Linked DNA regions of Homo sapiens. The protein of the gene in region 2 interacts with the protein of the main gene of each other region in a pairwise test. Each region holds a gene or a part of one and is shown on either strand. Other genes may lie near its edges. The genes, in order: PDHX, SIRT4 and DLAT.

The links.
Region 1: the proteins of SIRT4 (region 2) and PDHX interact in binary tests that used the Homo sapiens proteins (3 or more experiments, as listed by UniProt).
Region 3: the proteins of SIRT4 (region 2) and DLAT interact in binary tests that used the Homo sapiens proteins (3 or more experiments, as listed by UniProt).

What each region holds. Positions count from the first base shown.
Region 1 is NC_000011.10:34,954,573-34,961,684, reverse strand, and holds part of PDHX (pyruvate dehydrogenase protein X component, mitochondrial isoform 1 precursor), read right to left. Parts: intron 4,302-7,112; coding exon 4,102-4,301; intron 1,266-4,101; coding exon 1,167-1,265; intron 1-1,166.
Region 2 is NC_000012.12:120,297,932-120,305,365, reverse strand, and holds the start of SIRT4 (NAD-dependent protein lipoamidase sirtuin-4, mitochondrial), read right to left. Parts: upstream 3,046-7,434; 5' UTR 2,988-3,045; intron 1,806-2,987; 5' UTR 1,805-1,805; coding exon 1,308-1,804; intron 1-1,307. UniProt on the Homo sapiens protein: Acts as a NAD-dependent protein lipoamidase, biotinylase, deacetylase and ADP-ribosyl transferase. Catalyzes more efficiently removal of lipoyl- and biotinyl- than acetyl-lysine modifications.
Region 3 is NC_000011.10:112,056,310-112,063,421, forward strand, and holds part of DLAT (dihydrolipoyllysine-residue acetyltransferase component of pyruvate dehydrogenase complex, mitochondrial isoform 2 precursor), read left to right. Parts: intron 1-3,593; coding exon 3,594-3,756; intron 3,757-4,410; exon of another isoform or gene 4,411-4,428; coding exon of another isoform or gene 4,429-4,485; intron 4,486-4,728; coding exon 4,729-4,865; intron 4,866-6,096; coding exon 6,097-6,226; 3' UTR 6,227-7,112.

The DNA.
Region 1 (7,112 bases), on a different chromosome or scaffold from region 2:
AATCTATATACTGCTTTCAATAAAATAAACACCCAACAGTAAGCCAAAGCTTTCATGAAGAGTAAAATAACCCAGTGGAAAAAAGAAAACATTGCCTGGCCCAACACTGCCACTTATAATTTAACAACCATTGCTCTCTCTCGACTTACAAAAATTCTGGCCAATATTATTTTTTATTTCCTATCAATATTAGATAAATATGGAATGAGTACATTGCTTTAAAACATAAACTCAATTTGAAACATTTACTATTACTGCCAATAAAAATGTAGCACATAACACTACTGAAATCTTACATTAGTTCATAAGCCTATTTGATTAATCTTTGTCTACCCTACTAGACTAAGTTTCAACAGAACAGGGGCCATCTGTTTTGAAAGACACAAACATTTAAACTAATGGAAAGACACAAACATTTAAACCAGTGTTGCAGAACAGAAAGACCCATCATGATAAAGATGTCAGTTCTCACAAAGTTAATTTAAAATGTGATACAATCCCATAAAAATACCCCTCACTCCTACCCATGGAGCTAGACGAACTGCTTAAAATTCATTTGGAAGAATAATAAAATAAGAATGAACTAAGAAAACTGATTTAAAAAAAGAGCAAAGCTATTGTTATCAGATTTTAAAGCATACAATAAAACATTTCTAATTAAAAGTGTGGTACTAAAAAAGTATGGTACTAACTCATGGACAGATGGATCAGTGAAATAGAAAAGAAAATCTAAAAAGAGACCAAACTGTATATGGAAATTGCTTTATAACAGCACAAGTGAATAAAATTCAAAGGGATAATGAAAATAATTTTTTAAAAATATATTTCCTTGTTTTAGAAATGTAAATGTTATTGCATGATTTCACATATTTAATACTGTATAAAGTTTCACTGTTCTACGCTCTAATTTTCTGCATTTATTACCACTTCTAAGGATCTTGCTTAGTTACCAAATTAGAGCTGTTCTTCAGTAATGCTATAATTATTCAGAAAACAACTCTTGCATAGAATACAATTTACAATGATAAAAGCAATTAAAAGTACAAAAGAAGAACAGTGTACCTCCTTTTAAATCTTAAGACTGAATAAGCTCTTTTTATTTTCTTTCAAAAAAACATGATCATAATAAATAATGGAACTGGTTATTACAAAAAGCAAACACATACTCTTTAGTGAATATCCCCCGAGGGCCAGTGGCTGTGCCCTGGCTAGCATCCAGTGAGTGTTTTTCCAGAATATTGCGGGCAGCTGGACTTAAACGGAACCTAAGAAAAAAATATGAAGGTTAATAGAACCAATTAACACTTACATTTGATTCAAATAGATCTAAATGTCAACAGTTTCGCAAATAATTAAAAAAAAATCTTATAATAAAGCTAAAATGACTCCCACAGATGGTCACAGTCAAATAATCTGTACCAATTTGGTTTATTTTATTCTTTAAACACTTTCGTAAAAATTTAGTTACTATTTCTAAATATGATTTTAATAAGAATAAATATTAATTAGGGGAAAGAGCTGCTATTTCAACTAATTACTTTCACATGGGTGCTCATCACAACTACCAATTGTTTCCTTCGTATATTTTGTTCTATCATTTCTTCATATATTTTGTATTGTGGCAAATGATACCTAAAATTTATCATTTTAAGCATTTTTAGGTGTACAACTGAGTGGCATTTAGTACAATCACACTATTGTGCAACCATCACCACCATCTATCTCCAGAAATGTTCATCTTTCCAAATTGAAACTCTGTATCTATTAAACAGTAACTCTCCATTCCTCCTTCCTCCCAACCCCTGGTAACCATTCTCTTTGTCTCTGTCAATTTGACTACTCTAGGTAACTCACATAAGTAGAATCATACAGTTATTTGTTTTGTGACTGGCTTATTTTACTGAGCATAATATTCTCAAGGTTTATCCATGCAGCATTTATCAGAATTTCCTTCCTAAAAAGCTGAATCACATTTCATAGCATTTTGGACTTATGAGTTGTTTCTACCATTTTGCTACTGTGAATAATGTTGCTATGAACATAGATGTACAAATATCTCTTTCCAGTCTTTGCTTTCAGTTATTTTGCATATATATCTGGAAGTGGACCTACTAGATGATATGGTAATTTTAATTTTCTAAGAAACTGCCATACTGTTTTCCACAGTAGCTGCAGCATTTTACACTTCCACTAGGCAACAACAAGGGTTCCAAATTATCCATGTCCTTGCCAACACTTGTTATAATCTGGGTCTGGTTTGGTTTTTGTTTGTTTGTTTGTTTTGATACTAGCCATCCTGAAGGGTATGAAGGGGTGTCTCATTGTGGTTTTGATTTTCATTTCCCTAATGGTTAGTGACGGTGAACATATTTTTCATGTGCCTGCTGGCCATCTATGTATCTTCTTGGGAGAAATGCTATTAAAGTTCTTCACCTGTTTTTTAATTGGGTTGTTTTGCTGAGGTTGAATTGTATGTATACACAATTATATATATTTATTATATATATAGGATACCTCAGATTACATGACTAATGGTATATCTCTTGTATGCAAAGTAGTAAACAAATTACTACATGGTCAGATAAAGAAAATAAGCCTGATTAGTACAGATTAAAACAGGCTGGATCTAGAAATTAAAGCTAAGAGACAGAAACAACTGTGGAACTTGCTGCATTTCAGGGAAGTATTAAATAACTCTGATATGGGCCCAATGTTACTAAATCTTTAGATTTTTCAAGAGAATCTGAAATTTTAGATTTTTATATAGGATTAGTAACCAACCAACCAAAAAAAAATTTTTTTTTCATTCACTGTGTGCCCAACAGTATGCAGAGTTCACAGGTCAGTAGGTTTTTAACCTACACAGTGGGGCCTGATTCATGCGAGTCTCTGATGATGACTGATCTTAATTAGGGTACATACTATTATTATCTTTGCAAGGGCAGAAGACCATTAGTTAGAAAGCATCAGTGAGACTGTCTTCCAATTTTTAGGGTAAATGAAAGAGGAGACAGTAAATGGGAGTCAAGGCAACAGAGTCAGAAACACTGCACTAGGAATTTAAAATCAGTACTTCAAAAAGCAGGCCAGGCGCAGTGGCTCACGCCTGTAATCCCAGCACTTTGGGAGGCCGAGGCAGGCGGATCATGAAGTCAGGAGTTCGAGACCAGCCTGGCCAACATGGAGAAACTCCATCTCTACCAAAAATACAAAAAAATTAGCCAGGCATGGTGGCACATGCCTGTAATTCCAGCTACTCAGGAGGCTGAGGCAGGAGAATCGCTTGAACCCAGAAGACCGAGGTTGCGGTAAGCTGAGATTGCACCATTGCACTCCAGCCTGGACAATGAGATCAAAACTCCGTCACCCACCTCCGCACGCCCCCCCCTAAAAAAAGCACTGTGGATTCTTTTCTGACAATGATAAACTAAAGGAAAAAATGTTTAAGAATGAAGAGGTCTACTTTATGAAGATCTTTTTCTCGTAAAGAAAAAGTAATGTTGTATAATTATATAGAATACTAAATAAATGAAATGTTAGAATTTACAGAGTTCTTCTATTAAAGCAATGTAAAACTAAAGTGAAATGATGTGTATTAAGTTATCTGTTTTGTTACAGAACAGACAAAATTGAGCTCTAGTCTGTGCCGGAAAGTCATAATGCAGACTAGTTTGAAAACGAATGCATGTTAAAACATGAATTCTATTTTATATCAGATAGACATTTGAGCTTGGAATTCCTGTAACAGTAATTAGAACTCCATAAATGGGAACAGAGTATCAAGTTTGGTATATTGAATACCATTTTAGACTTCTAAAACCTAATTCAACCTCAACATGGACACATACTGTTTGGTTTTCCATTGTGCAAGCAGGGCTTTTAGAGTACCTGGAACATAGCAGATATTCAGTAACTATTTATTTACTGAATGAACAATGATGGTTAAAAAAAAAAACACACACTCTAAGGTCTGAGTGTGCTGAGAACAGCAACTTCCTACGTGATGTACAACGATGTGCGAATATGATAATGATTACAATTCCATAAGAACTGCCATAACTTTTTTTTTTTACATCATCCTTTGAATAAATATATACTCACCGTAGTGTCCCGGGTATGTGTTCCTTCTTGACAGGGATGGAAATCTGTGGTTCTGGTGAGGGGCGAGGCTCTGAAGGTTTTGAAACTGGTGGTGGAGGACCTACGTCTTTGGGAATTTCAACATGTTTCCAATCTTCTCCTTCTTCTACTATCAAACCAATTAGTGAACCTAGCCGTATATTTTTACTTCCTTCTTCAACCTATATTTAAAAAAGAAGTAACTGTAGAGAAGTAAAACCCCATGACTGCATTAAGTAGTTTGTTCTTTTGTTGGGTAATTCTCCCCTTAAGATATCTTAATTTGAGCTAAAAGCTGCTTCCAAGACAGTTTGCCTCTGCCTTCCACCTGTCACCTTCTCCACTTTCTCCCACTTATGCCTTCCTTCACCATTCTCCTCTTCCCACTTGCTAATGCTACCTTCTGAAATAAAGGATAAATCTAGAATGTATCCTCTTTCTGAGAGCCTTCAAATAAACATGTAAGATCCATCATTATCATCTTCTTTTTGATGTCAATACAAATCCAAACAGGAGCCTGTGGCTACATATCTTAACCATTTGTCTTTCCCAGAGAGTTTCTATGCAATGGCTTTAGAATTCTAAAAGCTCAGAAGGGATTAACTCCCTCAACTTAGTCCAATCTACTAAAATTTACCTAATGCAAGAATCTTTTCAGTAAACTTAGTCTGAAAAGATGAACATTCTAATGTATAGATAGAACTGGTTAACTATTCCAGTTAATGTTAAATATAGTCTACTTCTTTATATTTAATTATTTCCCTGTATATCTATTTACAAAACCTGAAAAATAAAATAAAACCTCATGAGTTTTTTTATAAGTATATCAGAAACACAGTGGTGTCTCAGTTAATAAAGCATTTCTTCCACAGATAATGCCAATTAAACACTTAAATAAAATCAAAGATAATGTTTTTAAAAGTTAAGTATATTTTAAGCATTTCAGCAGCATTAATTTATAAAGAAAGGGCTAATTCTAATTTACTTACTAAAAAGAAGTCCCTAGAAAACCTTCAAATAACAATATTTTATAAGTTCACTCCTGGAAGAAAATGTCATTCCCTTAAAATCTTCTATTATTCCCTTTCAATTACTCTAAATAAGGTTCATTAGCTGTATTTAATGAACAATAGAATGATAGGCTGCAGGACGTCCACTAATACAGTAATGGTAAGGAAAAGCATAACTTCTAGAATGAGTTTGACATATCAGAGTAACACTAATTTCAATGCTTACTGGTATGTTCACTATCGTTAATAAGGCATAAGTTATAAGGGGTTAGGAAGCTAAGTTTACTAATTACTGATGAAGAAGAAAAGCAGCAATGCTTTCATGAAGCAAAATACATATATATATATATGAAATTAGTATAGAAAGCTGAATAGGAATGTTTAATGAATTACAAGCTATGGAAGAATACTAAGAAAGCCAAGAAAAATCTAGTTGCTTAGTTGTTTGCCACATACTAAAAAATTTTGCTTCTGCAGAGTTCCTTTTTCTTTACTATGTCAAAAAGATGAGTTAAGATTATTATTAGACCAATATTTTTCTTCTAAAAGTGTTTAATTACCTGCTTGTGAATTGCTAACTCAAAAATCAAAGTAAAATGACTAATTTTCTTTAAAAATGTATACAAAAAAGCACTGTTAAGTGACATGAAGTCCACTTGATGTTAATTCCTTTCAAAACTGAATCAGAAATAGGATCAATATCCAAGTACAAAGAACATCATTCAAATGTAAAGCATTAAAAAAAGTTTTGCTTTAAAAATATCAATAGATTTCTAAAATCTGAGTCAGACAACTGTACTACATCTGAAAGTGGTACCTCACCTTCTGTTTCATTTACTGTAAATCATATAAATGATTCCATATATACTCTACCAACGTAACATTGACACCTTCACAAGTAGGCAATAAACAGCATTTATCATCATTTCAATTTTTACCATTATCTAAATATCAAATAAAATTTATTTTTAACTATTCACATTTTTTTCTATTTAAAAAAGTGACACCATGAAGCATGAAACCCAAATACAATGGACAAGGACAAGTGATATACAACCATACAACTTGAATATATAACAGAAGATAAAATACAGTTGATTATAATTCCATTTAAAGTCATTAAAATCTCTATATGAATTTAAGATAATTTCTTCAACCTTTTCTATTCCTTTGGTGCAGAGATCTTTCAGAGGTGTGCTAATTTCCTGTAAGCATTTGCTTACACTGTAGTAGGCAAATACTCAAAACTGGTGTAGACTTAGTATAAATACGTAAATAATACTCTTTGCAAAACTGTTTAAAAACCAAGCAGGCCTCTGTTACTGTTCCCTTTCCTCTCTGAGCTACCTCCATGGTAGCTCATGGTACCTCCATGGATACACTCTGCCCTACCAAAGCATCTGGAGCTAAGGACACCTCAAATGCCAGAGTTTTCTTATGCACTCAGCTTACTTGACCAAAGCCCTCTCTTACTCTTCTGCCAATGATTTCTTAATATTAAATGCAGGGTTTTTACACATAGCTCTATCAACTTAGAGCTCATCGATACTGAAATATTGAATGTTGAGTCTATCATTTCAAATATTAGCCTTCCCTCCCAGTTGTGTACAGACTTCCTGAGTTTCAACGCTGGCTCCACCACTTACTAGTTATGTGACCTTAGTAAAGTTTCCTTATCTCACCATGCTTGTTTTCTGAGCTGTAAGATGCAAATAACAGTAGCTACTTCACATTGTTGTTATGAGGAATAAATGAGTTATATGTAAGGCCCTTAGAATAGTGTCTGATAGCTAGTAACTTGTTTTCATTTTCATTGTTAAAGGCATTATTATTGCTGTTGTTATTGCTGTGGTGTTTTCCTTCAAATTATGGATTTTTTAAAACAATACATTCAACATGGATCAAGATTAGACTACAGGGGACTGACCCCTTGGTATGGGTTAGAAATTCATGCTTAAAGGCTTAGCATGTGGCTGGCAGCAC
Region 2 (7,434 bases):
GGTGAAAGGATCACTTGAGCCCAAGAGATTGAGGCTGAAGTGAGCTATAATCACACCACCACATCCCAGTCTGTGTGACAGAGTGAAAGCCTGTCATACACACACACACACACACACACACACGTGCACACACAAACACAAAAGAAAATAAAAGAAAATCACCCTAGCTTGCTCAACTTTCTTTTTTTTTTTTCTTTTTGAGACGGAGTTTTGCTCTGTTGCCCAGGCTGGGGTGTGGTGGCATGATCTCAGCTCATGATCTCAGCTCACTGCAACCTCTACCTCCCAGGTTCAAGCGATTCTCCTGCCTCAGCCTCCTGAGTAGCTGGAATTACAGGTGCGTGCCACCACTTCCAACAGATTTTTGTATTTTTAGTAGAGACGGGGTTTCACCATGTTGACCAGATTGGTCTTGAACTCCTGACCTCAGGTAATCTGCCTGCCTTGGCCTCCCAAAGTGCTGGGATTACAGGCGTGAGCCACCACACCCGGCCTCAACTTTCTTTAAAAAAAAAAAAAAAAAAAAAAAATATATATATATATATATATATATATATATATAAAATTTACTTTACTTATATAGAGACAGAGTCTCACTGTGTTTGCCAGGTTGGTCCTGAACTGTTAGCCTCAAGCAATCTTCCTGCCTCAGCCTTCCAAAGTGCTAGGATTACAGGTATGAGCCACTGTGCACCATCCTCAACTTTTTTTTTTCTTTTTTTCTTTTTTTTTGCACTGTTGCCCAGGCTGGAGTGTAGTGGTGCAATCTCGGCTCACTGCAGCAACCTCTGCCTCCCAAGAGATTTTCCTGCCTCAGCCTCCCAAGCAGCTGGGATTACAGGCATGTGCCACCACGACTGGCTAATTTTTGTATTTTTAGTAGAAATGGGGTTTCACCATGTTGGCCAGGCTGGTCTCGAACTCCTGAGCTCATGTGATCTGCCCACCTCAGCCTCCCAAAATGCTGGGATTACAGGCGTGAGCCACTGCGCCCGGCCCCAGTCCTCAAGTTTCATTGAGACAATCCTCAGGCATGTCCTAGACAGTTGGAGGGTCCCTCACAGGACTGAACCCCAGTGCCCAAGGCAGTAACCCACTCATTAACACACACTTTCTTGGCTTTCCTCTCTTTCCTGTTTTACATCCTTGCTCCGTCAATGAATTTACTGGAATCAACTGCAAAATAAACAACTTGCTCTGAAATCCTTTTCTCAAGGTCTAAGACTGTGGTGATCAAGACAGCCAAGGTCCCTACTCTCCCAAAACAACACACGGGTTTGCGTTCAAACCGTGTACAGCTCCTGCACCTGTCCATGCATCCGTGGAGCTCTGTCAGGCGCCGACTCCCCGCCTTGGTGTGCAAAGCATCCACATTTTGGGTCACCAACCAGTACAGCTTTCCGAGTTTCTCCCAGGTGCTCAAAGCCCAGTGTGCAGGGTTAGGCTGGTGGGAGGAGAATTGAGGCCAGCCTACGAAGTTTCTCGCCCAGTACCGCTGGCGGATTGGGGCACTCCGGACAAAATCACCATGCTGGATGGGCCTGCGGTCAGTGCGGGCATAAAGCCCCACTTTTTCTGACCTGTAGTCTGGTATCCCCGATTCGGTGGAGATTCCTGCCCCAGTCATCACAAGGAGTCTCTTGGAAAGGGTGATGAAGCGCTGTAACTCTTTGACCTTCTCAGGGTCCAGAGGAGGACTTGCTGGCACAAATAACCCAATGGAGGCTTTCGAGCACGGCTGGCTGGGGTTTGCGATCCAACGGCCTTTTGCTGACCTGAAAGTCAACGCAAAGCTCATCTTCATTCTAGAGAAAAAGAAGCCTCATGTGAGAAACTGGGGTGGTTTTTTTTTTTTCTCATTTTTTGTTTGTTTGTTTTCGTTTTGTTTTTTGAGACAGAGTCTCCCTCTGTTGCCCAGGCTAGAGTACAGTGGCATGATCTTGGCTCACTGTAACCGCCGCCTCCCGGGTTCAAGTGATTCTCCTGCCTCAGCCTCCAGAATAGCTGGGACTACATGGCCACCATGCCCGGCTAATTATTGTATTTTTAGTAGAGGCAGGGTTTCACCATGTTGGCCAGGCTAGTCTCGAACTCCTGAGCTCTAGTGATCTGCCCGCCTCGGCCTCCCAACGTGCTGGAATTACAGGTGTGAGCCTCTGAGTCTGGCCCTAATGAGTCAGGTTTTGTTTGATTTTGTTCATGTAATTAAGCACACACACGCATTCCTTTTATTTTTTCATTTCCCCCTTATTTTAGTTTACCCTCCACTGCAAGCTCTGCTACTTGGACACATCAGAGAGACAAGACCCCTGCCCGTCAGCTTTTCTAGCTGTAACAATAGAGGGCCGGGTGCGGTGGCTCACGTCTGAAATCCCAGCACTTTGGGAGGCCGACGCAGGCAGATCACTTGAGATCAGGAGTTCGAGACATGCCTGGCCAACATGGTGAAACCCCGACTCTACTAAAAATACAAAAAAAATTAGCCGGGCATTGTGGCACGTGCCCGTAATCCCAGCTACTAGGGAGGCTGAGGCAGGAGAATTGCTTGAACCCGGGAGGCGGAGGTTGCAGTGAGCCGAGATCGCGCCGTTGCACTCCAGCCTGGGCGAAGAAGCAAGACTCCGTATCAAAAAAAAAAAAAAAAAGAAAAAGAAAAAACTTTGACATATTATTTGACACAATGCAATGCATAAATCCTCTAGTGACATGCACCCCGTATGTAAACATTATTTTATGTTTGGCTTTCCAGATCTGAGATCAGGACCCCGCTTTCTCCTTGACATTCCACAGCAAAACGTGAACAGCTGAACAAACACACAGTCCGGTTTCCCGAGACCAAAGGGTCAGGGGAAACCCCCGCTGAAAACGTGCATCAGTGGAACAACTACTCTCTTCCAGGTCCCACCGAGGGCAAAGAGGAGAAATAGAATCCCTCACAAGAAATCCACAACTTCTAGAAATCCGCAGCACACACAGAACACACTTACCTCTCACAGCTCTACGGACACTTCACACCCCACAGTGGGACCGTCTGATTGCATTTGCATTTTGGGACATGTAGTCCAGAAAGCTTAAATGATGCGAGAAAAACCACAAGTCCCACAATCCTCCGCGTCTCGCAATTGACAGCCCCAGATCATCCAGGAACGCCCCCTGTCGGCTCTTTCTGGTCAGAGGTTCCCCCGTTAATATAAAAGCTTTTAATCATGGATTTTTTTCTTTGTTTTCAATTTCTGTGGGCACTTAGTAGGTGTATATATTTATAGTGTACATAAGATTTTTTTTCTTTTTTCTTTTTTTTTTTTAAGACGGAGTTGTTGTTTTTTTTTTTTGAAAAAACTCCAGTCTGGAGTGCAGTGGCACGATCTCGGCTCACTGCAACCTCCCTCTCCCGGGTTCAACCGATTCTCCTGCCTCAGCCTCCCGAGTAGCTGGGATTATTTTTGTATTTTTAGTAGAGACGGGGGTTTCGCCATGTTGGCCAGGCTCGTCTTGAACTCCTAACCTCAGGTGATCCGCACGCCTTGACCTCCCAAAGTGCTGGGATTATAGGCGTGAGCCACTGCGCCCGGCCATCTTTTCTCTTATTTTTTGTCTTTTTTTCTTTTCTCTGTGCCTGTCTATGCTTTACCCACATGAGATGTTTTGATACAAACATGCAATGTGAAATGAGCACGTCATTAATCATGGATCTAGATTTGACTTTTTTTTAAAGTTTTTGTATTTTTAGTAGAGACAGAGTTTCACCATGTTGGCCAGGCTGGTCTCGAACTCCCGACCTCAGGTGATCCGCCAACCTCGGCCCCCCAAAATGCTGGGATTACAGGCCTGAGCCACTGTTCCCGGCCTAGATTTGACTCATTCTAAACATCAGAGTTTGTGATCCTTTTCATTCACAACGACAGTATCAAGTTATTTGCTATTGGTAAAATACCTTGAACTTGTGAAGAAATGTGTTTATACATATCTGAAAAAGTGATAGTTTGTTGTTGTTGTTGTTGTTGTTTGTTTGTTTGTTTTTGAGACGGAGTCTCGCTCTGTTGCCCAGGCTGGAGTGCAATGGTGCCATTTCGGCTCACTGCAACCTCCGCCTCCCGGGTTCAAGCAATTCTCCTGCCTCAGCCTCCTGAGTAGCAGGGATTATGGGCGCATGCCACTACGCCCGGTTAATTTTTTTATTTTTAGTAGAGACAAGGTTTCACCATGTTAGCCAGGATGGTCTTGATCTCCTGACCTCGTGATCTGCCCACCCTAGCCTCCCAAAGTACTGGGATTACAGGCGTAAGCCACTGTGCCCAGCCAAAAGTGATGTTTTTACAGTTAATATGAAGCCAAATATATTATACCTGGACTAATGTACTTAACCTGCTTGGCTTCTCCAATTTTATTTATCATATTTTTTTTATTAAGTTAATCAAACAAGGCCTGCGTCTCACTCCCAGGGATTCTGATCTACAAATTTCCTAATTGTTCCTAATGTGTAGACAACCAGAACTGCCGCTCTGCAGCATCACCTAAATCAATAAATGTATAAGTGTCTTTGGACATAAAGGTGGGCGGCCAGCAGGGACCTTGAAGACCACCTAAGGACTCCCTTCCCCCATTTTAAGATGAATTGGGCTGAGTGCAGTGGTTCCCACCTGTAATACCAACACTTTGGGAGGCCAAGGCAGGAGGATCACTTGAGCCCAAAAGTTCAAGACCAGCTTGGGCAACATAGTGAGACCCACTCACTACAAAAAATAAACAAAATTAGCGGGGTGTGGTGGTGTGTGCCTGTAGTCCCAGCTACTCAAGAGGCTCAGGTGGGAGGATCACTTTGAGCCCAGGAGATCGAGGCTGCAGTGAGCCATAATTGTGCGACTGCACTTCAGCCTGGGTGACAAAGTGAGATCCCATCTCTTCAAAAAATAATAATAATAAATAAAGATGAACTGAAGTGCAGAGAAGTAATGTGGAAGCTTGAGAAAGAGTTTTTAGGTTTTTGGTTCTATCATTGTATCTTTGGAGGTAATATTGGCAAAATGACCATTTAGTAGTTTGCCCATTTCTGCTTTTTTTTTTTCTTTTTTTTGAGACAGGGTCTCGTTCTGTCACCCAGGCTGGAGTGCAGTTGTGACATCACAGCTCACTGCAGTTTCTACTTCCCAGGCCCAAGGGATCCTCCAACCTCATCCTCTCGAGTAGCTGAGATCACAGGCATCCACCACCACGCCCAGCTAAATTTTGTTATTTTTTATTTTTGTCGAGACACGGTCTCACTATGTTGCTCAGGCTGGTCTCAAACTCCTGAACTCAAGGAAAGCTCTTGCTTTGGCCTCCCAAAGTGCTGGGATTACAGGTGTGAGCCACCATGCCGGGCCTGCTTATTTCGACTTGGCAGCATCGTTTCATGAAGCCCCTGACTCTGTGACAACATACAGCTCTCCAGAAAGATGCTTTGAAGACAAAACAGAATAGAGCACACAGCCCTCCATGTCTCTTCCAAGTCACTATATTCATTAAAAGATAAATGACTCTGGTCATTGCCTTTTCCTGCACAAGATAATGTCTGATGGGGTTAGTGATGATACCTCTGTAATCCATAACCAGATATACTCTTGCACCCAAACTTTGATATGATTGTGCTTTAATGTAACTTTGAAGCAAGTTTAATGTGATTTTGCAGGCGCCGTACACTCACCACTTGTATATGAGTGGCTGAAATTCTGTGTTGGACCAGTCTGATGGAACTGCTCCCACACTATAGCCCTCGGTCTGTAATCCTCAGTAAGACTTGTAAGTAAAACTAACTTTAATTTTTTTTTTTTTTTTTTGAGAGAGTCTAGCTCTGTTGCCCAGGCTGGAGTGCAGTGGCGCGATCTTCACTCACTGAAGCCTCTGCCTTCCCGGCTGAAGTGATTCTGCTGCCTCGGCCTCCGGAGTAGCTAGGATTACAGGCGCTCGCCACTGCGCCCGGCTAATTTTTGTATTTTTAGTAGAGATGGGGTTTCGTCATGTTGGCCAGGCTGGTTTTGAACTCGTGACCTCAGGTGACCCACCTGCCTCAGTCTCCTAAAATGCTAGGATTACAGGAGTGAGCCACTGCACCCCGCCACTTTTATTATTATTATTATTGTATTTATTTATTTATTTATTTATTTTTGAGACGGAGTCTCGCTCTGTCGCCCAGGCTGGAGTGTAGTGGAGAGATCTCGGCCCACTACAAGCTCCGCCTCCCGGGTTCACGCGATTCTCCTGCCTCAGCCTCCGGACTACAGGCGCCCGCCACCACACCCGGCTAATTTTTTGTATTTTTTTTTTAGTAGAGACGGGGTTTCACCGTGTTAGCCAGGATGGTCTCTATCTCTTGACCTCGTGATCCGCCCGCCTCAGCCTCCCAAAGTACTGGGATTACAGGCGTGAGCCACCGCGCCCGGCTATTTATTTATTTATTTATTTATTTATTTATTTATTTTTTGAGACGGAATATTGCTCTGTGCCCAGGCTGGAGTGCAGTGGCACGATCTCAGATCACTGCAACCTCCGCCTCCCGGGTTCAAGTGATTCTCCTGCCTCAGCCTCCCGAGTAGCTGGGATTACGGGTGCCCGCCACCATGCCCGGCTAATTTTTGTATTTTTAGTAGAGACGGGGTTTCACCATGCTTGTCAGCATGGTCTCGAACTCCTGACCTCGCGATCCGCCCGCCTCAGCCTCCCAAAGTGCTGGAATTACAGGCATGAGCCACTGCGCCCTGCCACTTTAATTATTTAAAAGCTTATTTTTTTATTTTGGGGACATGGTCTCACTCTTTCACCCAGGCGGGAGTTCAGAGGCACGATCACTGCGCACTACAGCCTCAACCTCTTGGACTCAAACCATCCTCCCACCTCAGCCTCCTGAGTAGCTGGGACTACAGGTGGGCCACCAAGCCCAGCTAATTTTTGTATTTTTTTGTAGAGACGGGGTTTCACCATGTTGCCCAGGCTGGTCTCGAACTCCTGGGCTCTAGGCTTTCCAAAGTGTTGTGATTACGGGCGTGAGCTACTGCGCCTGGCCGATTCTTTTTAACTTAGTACACAGGGAGTAGTAGCTCCAGCAACAGCGAAAGTCAGTAGCTGTAGGATCTACTAGGCGGGGAAACTCATATGACAGCCCCCTCCTTTTTTTTTTTTTTTTTTTTTTTTTTGAGATGGAGTTTCACTCTTGTTGACCAGGCTGGAGTGCAATGGCGCCATCTTGGCTCACCGCAACCTCCGCCTCCCGGGTTCAAGTGATTCTCCTGCCTCAGCCTCCCCAGTATCTGGGATTACAGGTGTGAGCCACTGCGCCCGGCCACCCCCTTTTTTTTTCAAGGCTGCAGTGAGCCATGATCCTGTGACTGCACTCCAGCCACTGACAGCCCTTTCTGCATTAGTTAACCTGACCACATCTGCTGAAAGAAAGCACCAGAA
Region 3 (7,112 bases), on a different chromosome or scaffold from region 2:
CCCAAAAGATCACTCATGCTCATTTATAGTAAATTCTTATTTTCACCTTCAGCCCCTGGGCAATTTGTTATAGTGCTTGAGTCTATAGATTTGTATTTTCTAGACCTTTTATAGAAATGGAGTCATAAAATATGTGGTCTTTTGCATCTACTTTCTTTCACTTAACGAAATGTTTTTGAGACTCATCCATGTTGTAGCATGTATCTGTAGTTTATTCTTTTTTATTGCTGTATAGTGTTTAATCGTATCAATATACCTCTTTATCATTCACCAGTTAACATGTTTTCCAGTTTTTTGCTATTATGAATGATGCTACTATGAGTATTTACATACAGTTATTTGTGTGGACATATATTTTTATTTCTCTTCAGTAGATTCCTAGGAGTGGAATACCTGAGTCATAGGGTAAAATTATGTTTAATTTTTAGAGAAACTTCTACATTATTTTTCAAAGTGGTTGCACCATTTTACCTTCCCACCAATAGTGGATAAGTGTTCCAGTTTCTCTATGTCCTCATCAATATTTGTTACCGTGTGGGTGTGAAGTGAGAACCATCTACTTGTGAGAGTATCTCGCTTTATTGCACTTTGATTTATTGTGCTTTTTTATAAATTGAAGGCTTGTGGCAACCCTCTGTCAAGCAAGTTGATGGCACCATTTTTCCAACAGCATGTGCTCACTTCCTGTCTCTGTGTCACATTTTGGCAATTCCTAGAGTATTTCAAACTTTATTATTGTATCTGTTATGGTGACCTGTGATCAAGGATCTTTGATGTTACCATTGTAATTGTTTCAATGCCCCATGAACCATGCCCATATAAGATGGCAAACTTCATTGATAAATTTTGCATGTGTTCTGACTGGTTGATAGAATTGATAGAATTATCAACCAGCTGTTCCTCTGTCTCTCTCCCTCTCCTTGGGCCTCCCTATTCCATGAGACACAATAAAACTGAAATCAGGCCAATTAGTAACTCTACAATGGCCTCTGAGTGTTTCAGTGAAAGGAAGACTTTCACGTCTCTTACTTTAAATCAAAAGCTAGAAATGATTAAGCTCAATGAGTAAGGCATGTCAAAAGCCAAGATCGGTTGAAAGCTAGGCCTCTTGTGCCAAACAGCCAACTTGTGAATACAAAGAAAAAGCTCTTGAAAGAAATGAAAAGTACTATCCTGGTGAACACACGAATGATAAGAAAGTGAAACAGCCTTGTTGCTGATACGGAGAAAGTTTTGAGTGGTCTAGATAAAAGATTAAACCAGGTACAGCATTCCCTTAAGCCAAAGCTTAATTCAGAGCAAGGCCCTAACTCTCTTCAATTCTTTGAAGGCTGATAGAGGTGAGGAAGCCGCGTAACAGAAGTTTGAGGCTAGCAGAGGTTGGCTCATGAGGTTGAAGGAAAGGAGGCCATAATAACATAAAAGTACAGGGTGAAGCAGCAAATTATTCAGAAGATACAGCTAAGATAATTGATATCCCTCATCAGTCGGCAGCCATCAACATCAAGGCAAGATCTACCAGCAAAAAATTACAATTCACTAAAAGTTCAGGTGATTTTTAGCATATTTTAGCAATAAAGTATTTTTAAATTAAGGTGTATACATTGGTTTTTTGTTAGTCACGATGCTATTGCACTCTTAGTAGACAACAGTGTAGTGTTAAGCATAACTTTTGTATGTACTAGGAGATCAGAAAATTCATGTGACTCGCTTTATTGCAATATTATTTTGGTGGTCTGGAACTGAACCTGGAATATCAAGATATTTCTATACTTAGATGAAGAAATTGAGGTTGTCTGTTAATTCTAACCAAACACCATTCATTTACTTGTTCATACACCCATTCAACATTTATTTAACATGTACTGTTTACTGGATTCAGTGGTGAACAATATAGGGAATACTGTCCTTACTGTCTCAAAGGGAAGATGATTGAACAAGCAATATTGTAATAATTTATTCAAGAAAGCAGTATTTGCTGTGTGATACCTTGGCTACAGTTCTGTGGTAATTAATGAGTCATACACGGTATTTTTATTAGAGCAGGTTCCTGTGTTTGTTTGCAAGTGACAAAATCCTGCTCTAGCCAACTTAGGCAAATTGGGGGATTTGGTACCCACTGATCTTTTTGGAGCTTGTGCCTAGAAAGAGCTGGAGTTCTTTGGAGGCAGAGCTGTGCCTTTGTTTGAAGTCTTAACTTTTTCTCGATTGCAGAACACTAGCAGGGGCCCTTAGGCAGACCCCAAGGAGACCACGGATAAAATCCATGAATCCATGAGCTTGTGAACTTCAGTTGGGGTGGGGGAAGGGGGGGGTGGGGGGGGGGAATCACCTTTTTTTTTTTCTACTAACATTTAGCATTTCTTCCTTTTATAAATGTAGAGAACAGATCAAATGTTAACAGTACTTGTGTCTGGTGACCAATAAAAATCAGTTATTTTCATATCACATTGTAGTTGTATATATCTCAAAATGTTATTTTGTTCATCCCTGCTTCAAAATGATAGCCATTATTAGACCTGCAACAAGATCTTATTATTGAGTGAATACAGAAGCACATTTGTCATAATTTTGCTTTTGAACCGTTTGATAACTGAATTTCAGTATAGTTTCTCTCTTTTTTCTAGTAATTTGAGTATTTTCAGTGTTAAAAAGGTATTCTGAGATAAGATCCAGATGCATAGGGACACATTCTGTAGAAAAGATTGGGACTCCTTGATAACAGAAGATCTGATATTGTGTAAAAAAAAAAAAAAGATTGGGACCCCTTACTTTTACGTTCTTCTGAGGTACCACCACCCATGTATCCTGAGCACTCCTATTTCTTGCTACAATGCAGTTCTTTCCCTTCACTCTTCCTTTCATCTGCTCAAACTACTTGCAGAGACTCAACTGCAGCCAATGTACGTCCACTCAAAATCCAAGGAGTTCTGATTGGTGGGGTTTTCTTTCAGCTGCATTCACGTGTCGGTCAAGGCAGACGGCAGGGGATGTTAGACGATATGTGCGAAACCAACCTACTGCTGCTGACACATTTCTCATTCTTTTTTTTTTTTTTTTTTCTTGGCAGGCGGTGGGGTCAGGGGCAGGGGCAGCGTTGGGGGATGGAGTCTCGCTCTGCTGCCCAGGCTGGAGTGCAGTGGTGTGATCTCAGCTCACTGCAACCTCCACCTCCCAGGTTCAAGTGGTTCTCCTGCCTCAGCCTCCTGAGTAGCTGGCACTACAGCTGTGCACCACCATGCCCAGCTAACTTTTGTATTTTTGGTAGAGACAGAGTTTCGCCATGTTGGCCAGGCTGGTCTCAAACTACTGACTTCAAGTGATCCGCCCACCTCAGCCTCCCAAAGTGTTGGGATTACAGGCATGAGCCACCGTTCCCGGACCTCTCTTTGATTTTTAATAACTACAAGTCAAGGAGAGGGCACAGCAAAATGTAAAAATTAGGATAGACATCTTAATTTTTGTCTTTGGCTGAACAATAACACACATTGGTTCAAAAAATTTTTGAAGTAAATATAAATATTCTTGCTTAACCTGGCACACAGGCTCTTAATAAACAGTTTTTTATTATATTTATTTTTCTTTTTAAACAGAAATCATGTTGTTGATGTCAGTGTTGCGGTCAGTACTCCTGCAGGACTCATCACACCTATTGTGTTTAATGCACATATAAAAGGAGTGGAAACCATTGCTAATGATGTTGTTTCTTTAGCAACCAAAGCAAGAGAGGGTAAACTACAGCCACATGAATTCCAGGTAGGGTATTAATTATTGCTTTCTAATTATGTTATTTTTAAGGTTTGCATAATGCATTTATTGCATTTTTCACCTTTTGATTCTGTCACGTAATTTTTTTTTTTTTTTTTTTTTTTGAGACGGAGTCTCTCTGTCACCCAGGCTGGAGTGCAGTGGCATGATCTCGGCTCACTGCAAGCTCCGCCTCCTGGGTTACGCCATTCTCCTGCCTCAGCCTCCCAAGTAGCTGGGACTACAGGCACCTGCCACCACGCCCGGCTAGTTTTTTGTATTTTTAGTAGAGACTGGTTTTCACCATGTTGGCCAGGATGGTCTTGATCTCCTGACCTTGTGATCCGCCTGCCTCAGCCTCCCAAAGTGCTGGGATTACAGGCATGAGCCACCACGCCCAGCGTAATTCTTTTTTGAAACAGAGTCTCACTCTTGTCACCCAGGTTGGAGTACAATGGTGCAATCTTGGCTCACTGCAACCTCCGCCTCCCAGGTTCAAGCAATTCTCCTACCTCTGCCTCCTGAGTAGCTGGTATTACAGGCATGCACCACTGCACCTGACTAATTTTGTGTGTGTGTGTATGTTTTTAGTAGTGTCGGGGTTTCACCATGTTGGCCAGGCTGGTTTCAAACTCCTGACCTCAAATGATCCACCCGCCTCACCCTCTCGAAGTGCTGGGATTACAGGTGTGAGCCACTGTGCCTGGCCTGCCACGTAACTCTTATTGACACACCGTTCTGAAAATAAAGTAAAATTCAATCATATATCCAAAAGAAGATATTGTTTGAAAATAAGACATTTTCCGGCTGACATTTTTGTTCATATTGTAATGGTTGTATATCTTCAGTAATGTGTATTCCATTCAGGCCTTTCTTAAGACCTTGCACCTTTTTAGCTTAAGGTCTTTTCACAGAACATTTGTCAAGTTTTCTGATTTATGTTGACAAACTATAATTTATTTTTAATTTTTTTTCCTCTAGGGTGGCACTTTTACGATCTCCAATTTAGGAATGTTTGGAATTAAGAATTTCTCTGCTATTATTAACCCACCTCAAGCATGTATTTTGGCAATTGGTGCTTCAGAGGATAAACTGGTCCCTGCAGATAATGAAAAAGGGTAAGTGCCAAAATGGAGGGGAAGTCGTAAGCTAATTTTTATTACACTGTACACTTGTCCTGTGGTATCCTCAGGGGATTGGCTCCAGGAACCCCCTCAAATATCGTGATCCACAATGCTCAAGTCCCTGATATGATATGATGTAATATTTGCATATAACCTACACACATTATTCTGTATACTTTATTCTTGACTTATAATAATACAATACCTAAACAGCACTTCATTCACATGGATCCAGTGTAGTGCCCGGTGTGCAGCAAATTCAAGTTGTGCTTACTGGAAATTTGTGGAATTGTTTACTTTCTGGATATTTTGATCCATGGTTGGTTGAATCTATGGATTCGGAACCCATGGATATATGGAGGGTCAACCATACCTGTTTTTGAGTATCAGTGTTTTTTTTGTTTGTTTGTTTGAGATGGAGTCTCACTCACCCTGTCACCCAGGCAGAAGTGCAGTGGTGCCATCTCGGCTCACTGCAATCCCCGCCTCCCAGGTTCAAATAATTCTCCTGCCTCAGCCTCCCAAGTAGCTATAGCTGGGATTACAGGCATGTACTACCACACTTGGCTAATTTTTGTATTTTTAGTAGACATGTTGTTTCACCATGTAGGCCAGGCTGGTCTTGATCCTGACCTCAAATGATCTGCTCACCTCAGCCTTCCAAAGTGCTGGGATTACAGGAATGAGCCAGTGTGCCTGGCCAGAGTCTCAGTTTTATATATAGTTATTGGCATGCTATATTGTATCTTCAAATAAAATTATATATATATAAAAAATACGAAATTCTTCAAGGCAGCAACTTTACTAAATGCAGTTAGTCCTATTTGAGGTGGAAAGCCTTATTTATTCTAGGTGAGGAGTCAGCATGCTTTTTTTTAGTTGTATAGTAAGTATTTTAGGCTTTCTGGGACATATGGCTGCTGTTGCAAATAATCTGCCATTGTAGTATGAAGGGAGGCATAAACAAGACAAATGAATTGCAGTAAATCTTTACCTAATAAAAACAGGCAGAGGACAGGATTTGGCCCATTGCCCACCCATACTCCAGGTATCTGGTCTGTTTCTTCAAGCTATAAATTTGAGCTAAAGGTATAGGAGACTGGAAGAGTAGATAGGAAGTATTACCTGGTTGGGATTATAGGGTAGGAGTGAGCATTTGGGTGGTTACTGGCTGAAATGCAGTATTTTCTTTCAGAATATCTAAAATGTCTTTATCTTTTTCTAGGTTTGATGTGGCTAGCATGATGTCTGTTACACTCAGTTGTGATCACCGGGTGGTGGATGGAGCAGTTGGAGCCCAGTGGCTTGCTGAGTTTAGAAAGTACCTTGAAAAACCTATCACTATGTTGTTGTAACTAACTCAAGAATTTCTAAACTCTCCCAGGTCACACTGATTCATTCTTAACAAGATATTTATATGTTATTAAACAGGTGGTTCTTTTTATTTTAACCAGTTATTTTTATTATTGAGTCTGTCCAGATAAGTTATTTATAATGGGCATTACTGAATTTTTAAAATGCCGATTACACCCAAATATTGTGCACATTTAATAATCAGACACCAGATTTTTAGCTCTGTACTCCTAATTAAGGGACATGTATGTGGCCTTGCCTAGCCCTTTGGTGATAAGTACTTCCTCTAGGAAATGTACGATAGGTAGAATTGTGGTTCCCTAAAGACAAGTACATAAAGGTGACCCTGATGAAACCTTGAAGTTCTGAAATTTAACTGCCTAAAATGTTCTCCTTAGATGTGAGAGAAAGAGAAATCAGAAAAATTAATTCTCTTGGGGGAAGGGCTTGAATTGAAGCTTTACTTTAGAATTTAGCCCTGGTTTGAAATTTTCCATTACATGATCTTGGTTTATCATCGATGGGAAGGGTAGAAAACTTCAAGGAAAATAAGTGAAATTTTAAAAGTCAGCATTTTCTTAGACCTCTTCAGCTGATTGTTTATTTTTCTATGAATTCCTACACATGGTTATTCCCCCCTACTTGAGATAATCTAAATATAAACCAGCTACTTGATGTAACTGAGAATTTGTGTGGATATTTATTTAAACAAATGTGTAATTTTGAGTACAGAATTCAACAGTTACCTCCAAAAAAGAAACATTGTTAATATAATTTAACAGAAGTTGTGAAACTAAAATTTTCTAAGATTAACTGGTAGTTCATTGTAAATGAACATAATGAACAGAATTTATGACTCCACTGTGGAAAATGCTATCAAATAACTAA